3 linked regions of the Homo sapiens genome follow. The protein of the gene in region 3 purifies or fractionates together with the protein of the main gene of each other region. This does not show direct contact. Each region holds a gene or a part of one and is shown on either strand. Other genes may lie near its edges. The genes, in order: SLC19A1, ARL5B and CD164L2.

Region 1 (3,743 bases), on a different chromosome or scaffold from region 3:
CTGCGGCCTGCAGCCCCCAGACATCACTGTATATGGCTGGAGCCTACAGGCTGGAGGGCCGGGATCCACACTGCTGGGCCCCTGCTGATCCCTCCAACCCAGGGCTTCTCCCAGGGACCAGCTCTCCCTGCCATCCCTGACGCTCAGGCACTTAACTATTTGACAAACCGATAATGAAACACGCAAGGACGGGGACCGCTGGAGGCTCGTGAGGGCCCAAGCACAGGATCCATTCCCAGATGCCAGTGTCACTCCCAAGTCACCTGCGTTTGTAAATCTCTATTTTGGGTGGAGCCCTCTGGAAGCCCACGCCCCACTGTCTGTGGCCACTCCTCGCAGTCCTCAATGGAGGTTTCTGTAAGTTCTTCACGAGTCTCCTGGCTCTTCCCTCAGAGCAGCTGCCTCTAGATTACAACTGCCAAGTGCTGTTGGTGGCAGAAGCCCTACCTCCCCACTCCGAAGCAGCTCCTGCAGGAAACCTGGGCCTTGTGTGGCTGGGGAACTCCCAGGACTCCTGCCACGCAGGGGGACCCGAGGGCAGCTTGGGCAGGCCCCTCGCGGCCGGGGGCGGATTCGCTCGGCTACACCTGACCGGAGAGACAGGTGAGGGACTGGTCTTTGTGGGTCCTGCGGGGTCCCCTTGGGGCTGTGGCTCCCTGCCTTGCTGTCTCCAGGCGGGAAGGGGGTGGGAGCCATCCTTCTGTGGGAAGGGGTCTAGGAGCCCCGCTGCTGTTCATCCCCACTTCCCCTCGGCTTCCTGGCCTGTCCTGCGTGTAAAGGGAGCAGGCTGCCCTGGCGAGCTGGCCCCATGGCTGGCTCCTCTCTGCCTGGAGGGAAGGAAGGGCCCCTCCTCCTCCGCGTTGCCCCTCCTGTCTTCCAGCAGGGCCAGGTTCTGCCCACCCGTGGAGAAGGCCAGTACAGGGGAGAGAGCCAGGGCTCCCACAAAGCAGGGGGTCCCTCCAGGTGAGGCGCTCCATCCTGTAGTGTTCCCTTAAATTCTGCAAGCTACCCCAGATCCCCCATTTCCAGCCAACAAATCCTTTTTAAGTTCCTTTGAGATTTGTTCGTGTGGCTTGCTACACTCAGGACTCTGGAAAGAAGGCCCAGGCCAGAGCTTTGGGCAGGCGGCCATTTAGGGCAAGGGCCCTGTGTTGGCTTCCTGGTGGGGTTGCCCTGCTGGTGGGCGGGAGACCAAGAGCACCCCCGCAACACCAGGAGGCAGGTCGCGGATTGTGCTGTCTACACTCCGGAAGGGGTACATTCCAGGGGCTGCTGCCCCAGACTCACCCCTCGCCTGGGACCCGCACTCTTGAGCTGTGGGTACCACGGTGGCCGTCCCCTTCTGTTCTGTGCAGTGGACTTCCTGGCTCCTCCTTAGCCTTGGGGCCCCCACAGCCCTCGGCTTGGCTTCCCTCCCCATAGCCAGGCCCTGGGTAACTCCAGGGGAAAGTGACCCTGAGGCCCCCCACTTCTCCCCGTGTCCTGCACAGGCCTTGGGCTTTCGGCGGTGCTGTCTGCCGCAGCCCCACGCCTTCCTGGGAGAGTGGCCCAGGCCCCCCTTCCTGAGTGTGACTGCGCTGCCGTCTGCGAGGCCTGCGCGGGTCTCCCCCGGGCTGTCCCTGCTGGGATGGGGACTGGTGGCCCCGGGCCACGTCCTGGATCCGGCTTGCTCCTTGGTACAAGCCCGTACGGGTCACGGTCAGGCAGGAGGGCGGGCGGCGGGGTCCCGGGGGCGCCGAGTTCGGGGCCGTGCGGTCCCCAAGAGCAGGCTGTGCGTGTCCCTGTTGGAGCCCCACGAAGGCGGCCCAGGGCCACCCCTGAGGGCGCGTGGGCCCGACCCGCGTCCCGGATCCAGCTTGCGGCCAGGAATGCAGGTGTTCCAGGGTGCCAAAAGGAAAACGCACAAGGCCTCGTCGAGGAGGGGGGGTCAGGAGGGGACCGGGGGTGGGAAGAACGCGGGGGAGAGGGATGGCAGGGTGCCCGCCCGAGGGACCGACACCTCCGCGAGTGGCACCCCAGGATGCTGACGCCGGCGGGGGTGGGGGCCCGAGGGGCGGTCGGGGTCAGGGGGCGGCCCCAGGGGTAGGGCCGCAGCACGAGGGGCCGCGTGACCCCGGCGGTGACCGGGTGGGGAGAGGCCGGCGCCGGGGCTGGGAGACGGCCGTGGGTGGGAGGGTGCCCCGTGGGGACGCTCCTGCCGCAGCGCCCGGCCACGCGCGAGGCCCCGCCCTCAGGACGCGTTCGGCGGGACGGACCCGCCCACCCCGCAGCCGCGCGCCCGCCGCGCCGCCTTGTGGGCGCTGTAGTCCCGGAGTCCGCGTGCGCGGGGCCGGGTCCGGGAGCCCCAGGGCAGCCGCCCCGCCGAGTCGCAGGTACCGGTGGGGAACGGGGCCACGGGGCCGCGTGTCGGGGGCTGCGGGGTGTCTCGGGGCCCTGGGGTGAGTGCGGGGCGCGGGCCGAGGTTTGCAGGGCCCTGTGAGGTGAGTGTGGGGGCTGGCGCTGGGGTCCGCGGGGCCCTGGGGAGGGTGCGGGGCGTGGGCCGGGGTCTGCGGTCTGCAGCCTGGGGTCCGCGGGGCCCTGGGGAGGGTGCGGGGCGTGGGCCGGGGTCTGCGGTCTGCAGCCTGGGGTCTGGGGGGCCCTGGGGAGGGTGCGGGGCGTGGCCGGGGTCTGCGGTCTGCAGCCTGGGGTCTGGGGGGCCCTGGGGAGGGTGCGGGGCGTGGGCCGGGGTCTCCGCGGGGGTCGCGGTGGCCCGGGCGCCTGGCAGAACCGTTGCTGTGCAGCGGGTTTCCCGCCGCTCGCTTTCCGCCGCAGCCTGCGAATGGGGTGGGGAGTCCCGGCCCCCAGCCTGCCCTCCGCGTCATCCTGGGGCGCCAAGTCCCACCCCCGGGTCTGGAGGAAAGCGTGGATCCGGCGTTCGCGCCCAGGCACGTGTTGCTTCGGGACGGGCCAGCCGGTGGGTGAACCCTGCCAGCCACGCGTGGGGCGGGCCCCTGGCACATCTCCAGACCATTGTCTCCTGTGCCAGAAGCTTTGTAGGTGCAACTTCCCCTTGGAGCAGCTGTGGGTGCGGATCCAGCGGAGCAATCCCGAGGCGTCTCAGAGAGAGCCTGGACAGCCGCTGGAGCCTTTCCCGAGTGGGTCCTTCCAACACCGCTACAGCAGGAAAGCCATCCCCCTAGGGTCCTGTCCATCGGAAACTCCTGTCCTGGGGAGTCTGGCCTGCCTGGCCTCAGGACACAGGCCAACTAAGCTGGCCCCGAAATCCAGAATGCATCCAGAGGGAAGGTGGGATAAAGTCCTTGGAGGCGCCTGTTGGCCGCCCTGTAAAGAGGTGGCCTCCCCCTACGGAGACCCGAGGATCCCCGCACAGCCCAGATTCAATCAGCAGAGCCGAGGTGCCTCTGGCCCAGTGCACCTGCCTGCCCTGTCCAGGCCTGGGAGCCAGGCTGCATCTCACTGGCCGCCTTTGCCTGGGTGCCACCTGTGCACTGCTTGTTGCAATTGCTAATTGCTTTCTTTCCGAAGGGGCTTTGGTGGATTTTTATAATTCCAGATAGTACAGTTATCTCTGCTGGACACAGATGAGAAAGAGTGCTTCTCGGGTGTTTGGGCCTGCAGCAGTGATAGCCGGAGGGTCTAATTATGCTGTTAGGAACCCTGAACTTGGTCATCTGAACAGGGGTGGGAGGGTGTGCAATGCTTTCTTCTTCTTCTTTTTAAACTAGCAGGCGTTCTAAAAAACA
Region 2 (3,743 bases), on a different chromosome or scaffold from region 3:
AAGGGAGAAAGGAAAACGGGAAAGGATATAAAGGGAAAACCAACTACTTCGGTAACGTTTCGATTCTCCAGCTCAGGGGAAAGAGAAAACTGGTGATTTTTGTATTAATCTTTATACCTTTAAGCATGTCTTAAAATGCTGTTTTACCGCTGGGCGCGGTGGCTCACACCTGTAATTCCAGCACTTTGGGAGGCCGAGGTGGGTAGATCACCTGAAGTCAGAAGGTCGAGACCAGCCTGCCCAACATGGCGAAACCCTGTCTCTACTAAAGATACAAAAATAGGCCGGGCGTGGTGGCGGGTGCCTGTAAATACCAGTTACTCGGGAGGCTGAGGAACAAGAATCGCTTGAACCCAGGATGCAGAGGTTGCAGTGAGCTGAGATTGCGCCACTGCACTGAAGCCTGGGCGACAGAGAAAGACTCTGCCTCAAAAAATAAATAAATAAAAATAATATTTTAAATGTATGGATAATACCCACAAAGTGTGAAGCTCTGCTCACTTTGAAATCATTTGATAAGTAATATTATCTGTGGTTACTGGATACAGGCATATACATATATATACACATGTGTGTGCCTGTATCTATATTTATAACCTTGAAAAAGACTGCTTTAGTGTTCTTATCAATCTACAGAACAAGTCAACTAAAGCCATTCCATTACCTCCACAACTTCTTAAATCCAGAAAAAGATTAGATACCTACATTAGCAGTAACAAATTGGTACCAACATAAAAGGAAATAAAACTGGCTTATTAACGATGCCCGGCTCTTAAATGTAAAATGAAACGAGTTGATTTTCAAAACTGGTTTCAATTACTAAGAAACCATTCTGTTCAAAGGACGCCTCAAACTTTAACTTATCGTCGGCCCCTTTTTTGGTCTGGGTGTTTTCTCTCTTCAGAAGACATCACATCTCATTCTGATTCAGAACAGGTTTTGCAACTTCTCGGCCCTTTGGACCTGCCACTTCCAGGTGTCTCATTACCTGTTACAGACTAATTACGGACACGTAACGTCTTACACAAAACCGAAAAGCATTTAGTTTCTGAACTAAATGCTTTAAAAAAAAAAGTTTACAATGAAGATGCTGGAAAACTCGTGCATCTGAATAGGACAACTCATTCCCAAGTCCTAGAGGAAAGGAGGCGAAATCAGAGTGAAAGTGCACTGGCTTACGGCTCAAACTGCAGGGCGGGAAAACAAAGCACCTACATTACTCAAAAAAAAAAAAGTTCTAGGTTTCTGGGCGGACACTTATCCTGGGGATACACATAGACACAAGCACGCTTCAATAAAGACGAGAAAGGCCCTCCATACGCCTCCTGGCATCATTAGCTGTATCCCGCTTTACTTCGCCAATATCCAAACATTCTCAGTTTGGATTCTGGGACGCCAAATACCTTCTCTTCTGCCTCCCTATTTCTCCCACACGTCAGGTCTCTCCTGTACGTCCTCCAGGTCTAAAACACTGAGTTTCTGCCCGCCCCCTGGCCTAAGTCCCTTCCTCCTCCGCGTCTCCGAACGCTCTGTCCCCTGTCTCCGGTGTCCCCATCGGCGGCGGGACCCTCTGCCTCGGATTCGAGCCGCCGCGCAGCTCCATTCTTCTCACCTTGGTTACAGAAGAGGCTCCACAGTTTGGCGAAGATCAGCCCCATCACGAGCACCGGGGCGGGCCGCGGGGTCCCTCGGCAGCAGGTGCCGCTGCGCCGGGTCCCCCACCGCGGCGCGGGCTGCGCGGAGCCGAGGAGAACCCGCCTGAGATCGCGCAGCGAGGGCACTGCTAGGCCGAGAAGCCTCGACCCGACCACTCAGAAGGCGCCGCGACGAATCCCCACCGGACAGCCCTTTGTTTCGAGCCCACTGAGCCCAACGCCGACCCGTAGTCCCCTCGGTCTGTACCCACCTACCTACCACAGCCTCTCCACAGCCCCAAGCCCCGCCTCCACCCCGCCTCCCCTCCGGATCCCAGGACCACCCATCGCCGGAAGCTAGGCGCGTGACGACGGCGCACTTACGGCAACCCACGCCTTCGACGTGGCGTTTTCTTCGGTTTCACTTCCGGTAGGAGAGTCCCAAACGGCCAGCGGCTGGGAATTTGCGGTATCGCGGGGGGGTGGGAAATTTCCCTTGGTGCGTGCTCCTTCTGATGTCAGCCTTCAAAACGTTTGTGGGACTCCCCTTTGATTTGAGTCTCTGCTGCTAGCAGCTGCTTCCCTGACCTCTAAAACCAGGAAAGACCATAGGTTCTCTAAGTGAGCAGCCGCCGTTTGCTGCTCTTAGAAAACTCACAGAAGTGAAGAGTGTTTCTTTCCTGACTTATTCCTGTTCCCCTAGGCAGGCGTGCTAGGGGTTAGGAGTTCTGCCGTGATTCTTCTTCATTCATTTATTAATCTATTCATTCACGTATTCATTCATTGGCTTATGCATTTATGTACTCATTGATTGATTGATCGATTGCAGACGAGGTCGGGCTGTGTTGCCCAGGGGGACTCAATTTCCTGGGCTCAAGCGATCTTCCTGCCTCGACTTCCCAAAGTGGTGGGATTGCAGGCTCAGCCACCGCGCCCGGCCCCTGTCGTGATTCTTAGTTCTGAAAAGAATTGATTGGGAGACGAGCCATGGAAGGCCTGGAGCCACAGAGTTCAGTTATGTGATTAATAATAACACATAATAATAACACATAGCACCCCTCTCCATTTTGCCAAGCATTAGGTATGTTCGTGGATCCCAGATCGAAGTCCACGCATAAGCCAATTCGCTGTGTAATTGTTTTCAATTCCACTTTCCATGGTTAGGTTCTAGCATTGAAAAGAAAAGCTTCACAGCCTGGCATGAAACGAAACTGAATGTCCTTGAAACCAGTTGACGGAGGAGCAAGCTTAAAATTTTTTTAGACTCTGACTTCAGTCAGATGGTTGGATTTTAACCTTGGCAACGTGGCCTTTTAACATGCCAAACTCTTGAGTTAACCTGTACAAGGAGAATGTATGACTTACGTCCTCCCAGTGCTATGGTTTAAAGACCCTTTAAGACTTAGATGCAGGATAATATGCTCCAACGTTACAACATTAAAGGCAAGTTTCAACCTCCTATGTAGAGGAAAAAGAATGTACTGACCCTATGCAAACTTAACTTTCATGACTATCAGTTGGACCATAAATGTGAATAATTTTGTGTTTGTGTAAGTAATGGCTTAAAAGGACATTTTTAGTCCTAGCTTCATTATCACAAAACAAACTTTAGATTCCGTAACAGCTTCTTCAATTGTTAGACATGGATGTAAACCACATTCTGCTTTTTTTTTTTTTTTCTGGCTTTCGGATTTCTAAGAAACCATTTCTGAAAAGAACAAAGCATTTTTGTATGAAGATGCAGACATTTGGCTGGGCGCTGGGGCTCATGCTTGTAATCCCAGCACTTTGGGAGGCTGAGGCGGGTGGATCACGAAGTCAAGAGATGGAGACCATCCTGGCCAACATGGTGAAACCCTGTCTCTACTAAAAATACAAAAATTAGCCGGGTGTGGTGGCACGCGCCTGTAATCCTAGCTACTCAGGAGGCTGAGGCAGGAGAATTGCTTGAACCTGGGAGGCAGAGGTTGCAGGGAGCAGAGATCACACCAGGGCACTTCAGCCTGGCGACAGAGTGAGACTCCGTCTAAAAAAATAAAAATAAAAATAAAATAAAGAAAATGCAGAGATTTGAAGCAAAAAAAACTATAGATTTCTTAAACATTTTTA
Region 3 (3,743 bases):
GCAAAGGGTGGCATTCTTGCCTCTACTCCGCCAGGAACCCGCCTTGTGACCCTCTCTGGGCCTGGAGGGTGCAGTAGGCAGGCACTGAGGATGTCTCCTGAGCAACTCGAGCCACACACCCTCACCTCCAAGGACAAGTCCCGAGGGGTGACCTTGAGTTCCCAGAACTGGCAATGGGGAGGAGGGATGGGAACTGTCATTTCTTGATTGCCTTCAGTGAGTCAGACACTGAAGTGGGCACTGTACAGCTTCTCATAAAACCTGCAGAGCAACTCTATGAGAAAGGCATCATCCAACCCATTTCACAGATGCGGAGACAGGCTCCGAGGGAGAAGGCGCAGGGCCGAGGTCACAGAGCATGTCAGTGCCTGAGCCCAGAGCTGTCTTCCCCTGCACCTCTGCTCCTCCCACTGCCCCGTCTCCAGGGAGTACTCACCTGTTGTGACTGTCTTCGGTTCATAGGTGGGGTGGTGGTGAGCAGCTGAGGAGACAGGTGATCCATAGCAAAGCAGCCTTCCCACCCCCTGACTCCCATCAAGACCCCAGCCCCCACTCACCGCTAAACTTCCGATTCAGATGCAGCCCTGTCCCTACTCTAGACATCCAACATACTTGCAAGCCCCACACAGTTCCCTCCACCAGATGTGCTCTCTCTCCATCTCTACCTTCCAGGCTCATTACTGATGCCACCTCCTCCAGGAAGCACTCCCTCTCATTCCCTCTGAACTTCCAAAGTCCTTGCTATGCCTTAAACTAGAAGAAGAGCTAACACTCCCATCCCCTCCACACACCTGTACTAATTTTCAGATGAGGAAATAGGCAGAGAGAGGAGGGGACTTCTCAGTGAGCTAAAGGCAGAACTGATACCGGGCCCAGGTATGGGTGAGCAAAATCCACCGCCTGAGAGAGGCTGTTTCCTCCTGGGGGGCAGGCTATGGCTGGGGAGACCCATGCAACTTGGCTTAGGTGCAAGAACCCCCTTACCTGGACATGCCTCTGAGCGGTTGTAGATGGAGCAACCTTCCTTGACCACCTCAGATTGGGCCACACAGTGTCCTGGTGAGAGAAGGTGCAGGGGGGAGGTTTGGGGAGAGGGGCCAGGGCCTTGGGGTTCAGAGCTGGGGGCACTCAATCTGGGGAGGGCTCAGCTCCATACCTGGCTCCTCTGGCCGGCACTGCTCCCACACGCAGCTGGAGAGATTGCGCGCTCCGTCTCCCTCCACGCAGTGCTCACAGACCTCCAGCTGTTTGCAGGCCCCTTGGACCGCCGGCCAGATATTCAGGCGGATCAGGGCTCCCCTCCCAAAGCCTCGAGCTCCTTTACCTGGTAGTGCGGTGGAGTGGGAAGGGAGAATTCCTCGAAGCCAAGCTGTGGCACCCGCCCACCCTCCCACCCAACACTCCGGTGGCCCTCGCCCCTCTGCACACATCTGGGCTCTCACACTCACCCCTGGATCCCCAAGCCCCAGCGCACACCTGGAGCTTCCACAGCAGAGGTCTACACACACCTAGAGCCTCCCCACATTCACCCAGAGCCCCTCCCTTTGCATACACCCGGGGTTCCCAGATTCAGTTGGAGCCACCTCCCCCAGACCACCTGAAGCTCCCTAGGCCCCCACACCTGGGGCCTATATTTACACACAGGGCTCCACACAGAGCTGGAGCCCCCTCTCCCACCCCTGGAGGCCTGCACTTGGCCGGAAAGCCCCCTCCCCTCAAGCCCAGGCTGCTCCTGGGGAGACGGCTGGCTGAGGTGCAAGCTCCATCCGTCCCCGTCGAGCCCCTAGCCAGACCCTGCCGCGAGTTACCAGCCACAGCCAGCTGGGCACATAGGAGGAGGCAGCAACAGCCGCCACAGAGCGCAGTCCGCAAGGCGCGGGGTCCCGGAGCCTCCATGGGCTCGCGGGGTGGGGGTGGCCGGGGGCGGTGGCCGGGATCGGTGGACAGCTGCCGGGCGCGTCCCTCCCAGACTGGGCTCGGCTGAGCGTGTGCGGAGCGAGACCTGGGCAACCGGGGCGTGGCCAGGTGGGGGCGTGGCCAGTGGGAGCGGCAGGTGGGGCGGGGCTCGTCGGTCGGGGCGGAGCCAGGTGAAGGCGGGGCCAGTTAGGGGCGTGGCTAGTGTGCGCGGCCAGGTGAGTTCGGGGGTCTGGGGCGGGGCTTGGACTAAAGCAGGTGGGGTCCAGGACTGGTGGCTGGCGTGGTTACTATGTGCCTCCAAGGGCAGCTTCTTGAAAATTCTGGAAAGTACCGACTGCTTTGATCCTTACTTCACAGGTGAGGAAACTGAGGCTCAGACAAGATGAGTGACTCGTTCGAGGTCACGGAGAGAGGCAGTGGCAAAAATCTGGATTCGAGACGAGGTCACTTCCCTGCCTTCAGGGCTCGGTGCAGGCCCCGCTTTGTACACCCTCCACCCAGGCCCCATGACCGCTGGGCCGGGCCCTAGCTGGCCCCTGCCCTCTGGCTGCCCAAGCTTAGCTTCGGTGCTCCCTCTCCATTCACTGCACCCCTCCACCCGCCTCCCTTCTGCCCCTCATCCGCTGTGTCTGCCTCTGGCCTACCACACCCTCTGGCCAGGTCAGGGGTGACGCCATTACTAGGCCAACTGGGCCTCTCCGCAGCCTTCCCCACGGCTACCACTCCTGCCCTGGCACCAGCCTCTTTTGGTTCTCCTCAGGCTCCTTAGGGGGCACTTCCTCTCCTTCCTCTTCCTCCTCCCCTCCTCTCCCCTCCTTCCCCCATCTGCTTCTCCTAACCCTCTCTTAATCGATGGTGGCCCAGGTTAGTCCCAAGCCCTGTTCCACACTCTCCTGGGGTCATCCTGGACATTCCACTGCCATCAGTCCCCACTTGAAACCCAACAGCTGAGGCAGGAGGATTGCTTGAGCCCAGGGATTTGAGGCTGTAGTGAGCTGTGATCATGGCATTGCACTCCAGCCTGCGCAACAGAGTGAAACCCTGTTTTAAATGAATGAATGAATGAATGCCAACAGGTCACGTATCCCAATAAATATATACACCCACTATGCACCCATTAAAAAAATTTTTTTTGAGCCAACAGATCTCTTAATCATCTCCAGGCCAGTTCTGACTTCACAACTGCCACACCTGTAACTGACAATATATAGCTAGCAATTATTGACCCCTTACTAGCCGAATGTACATTTTGAGAGCTTTTACATGCAACTTCCCATCTAATGTCCACAGCTACCCTCTAGGCATGAGTTTTGTCATTTCCCATTTGCAGGCTGCTCAGGGGCACAGGGTTTCAATGCAGCAGGCCAGGATGTAAAGCTAGGATTGAATGATGCTGGAGGCCATGCTCCCTCTGCTGTGCCTCCCATGGGTCCACGGCATCTCCACCTGAGTGTCCCTGAGGCCCCCAAAACTGCCCACTCAGGGGAAAAGAGACCCTTCGGGTTCTGGGGGAGGGAGGAGGGATAGCATTAGGAGATATACCTAACGTAAATGATGAGTTAATGGGTGCAGCACACCAACATGGCACATGTATACATATGTAACAAACCTGCACATTGTGCACATATACTCTAGAACTTAGAGTATAATAAAATATATATATTATATATATAAAAAAAGAAAATGTGGCACATATACACCACGGAATACTATGCAGCCATAAAAAAGGATGAGTTCATGTCCTTTGCAGGGACACGGATGAAGCTGGAAATCATCATTCTCAGCAAACTATCACAAGGACAGAAAACCAAACACTGCATGTTCTC

The links.
Region 1: the proteins of CD164L2 (region 3) and SLC19A1 purify together in Homo sapiens (affinity purification with mass spectrometry; 3 studies listed by BioGRID and IntAct, with this or other methods). This does not show direct contact.
Region 2: the proteins of CD164L2 (region 3) and ARL5B purify together in Homo sapiens (affinity purification with mass spectrometry; 2 studies listed by BioGRID and IntAct, with this or other methods). This does not show direct contact.

The regions. Positions count from the first base shown.
Region 1 is NC_000021.9:45,540,997-45,544,739, reverse strand, and holds the start of SLC19A1 (reduced folate transporter), read left to right. Parts: upstream 1-2,299; 5' UTR 2,300-2,372; intron 2,373-2,413; exon of another isoform or gene 2,414-2,480; intron 2,481-2,893; exon of another isoform or gene 2,894-3,268; coding exon of another isoform or gene 3,269-3,285; intron 3,286-3,743. UniProt on the Homo sapiens protein: Antiporter that mediates the import of reduced folates or a subset of cyclic dinucleotides, driven by the export of organic anions.
Region 2 is NC_000010.11:18,657,553-18,661,295, reverse strand, and holds the start of ARL5B (ADP-ribosylation factor-like protein 5B), read right to left. Parts: upstream 1,866-3,743; 5' UTR 1,659-1,865; coding exon 1,613-1,658; intron 1,570-1,612; exon of another isoform or gene 1,404-1,569; intron 1-1,403.
Region 3 is NC_000001.11:27,381,344-27,385,086, forward strand, and holds the start of CD164L2 (CD164 sialomucin-like 2 protein isoform 1 precursor), read right to left. Parts: upstream 1,991-3,743; 5' UTR 1,897-1,990; coding exon 1,809-1,896; intron 1,325-1,808; coding exon 1,157-1,324; intron 1,057-1,156; coding exon 985-1,056; intron 482-984; coding exon 437-481; intron 1-436.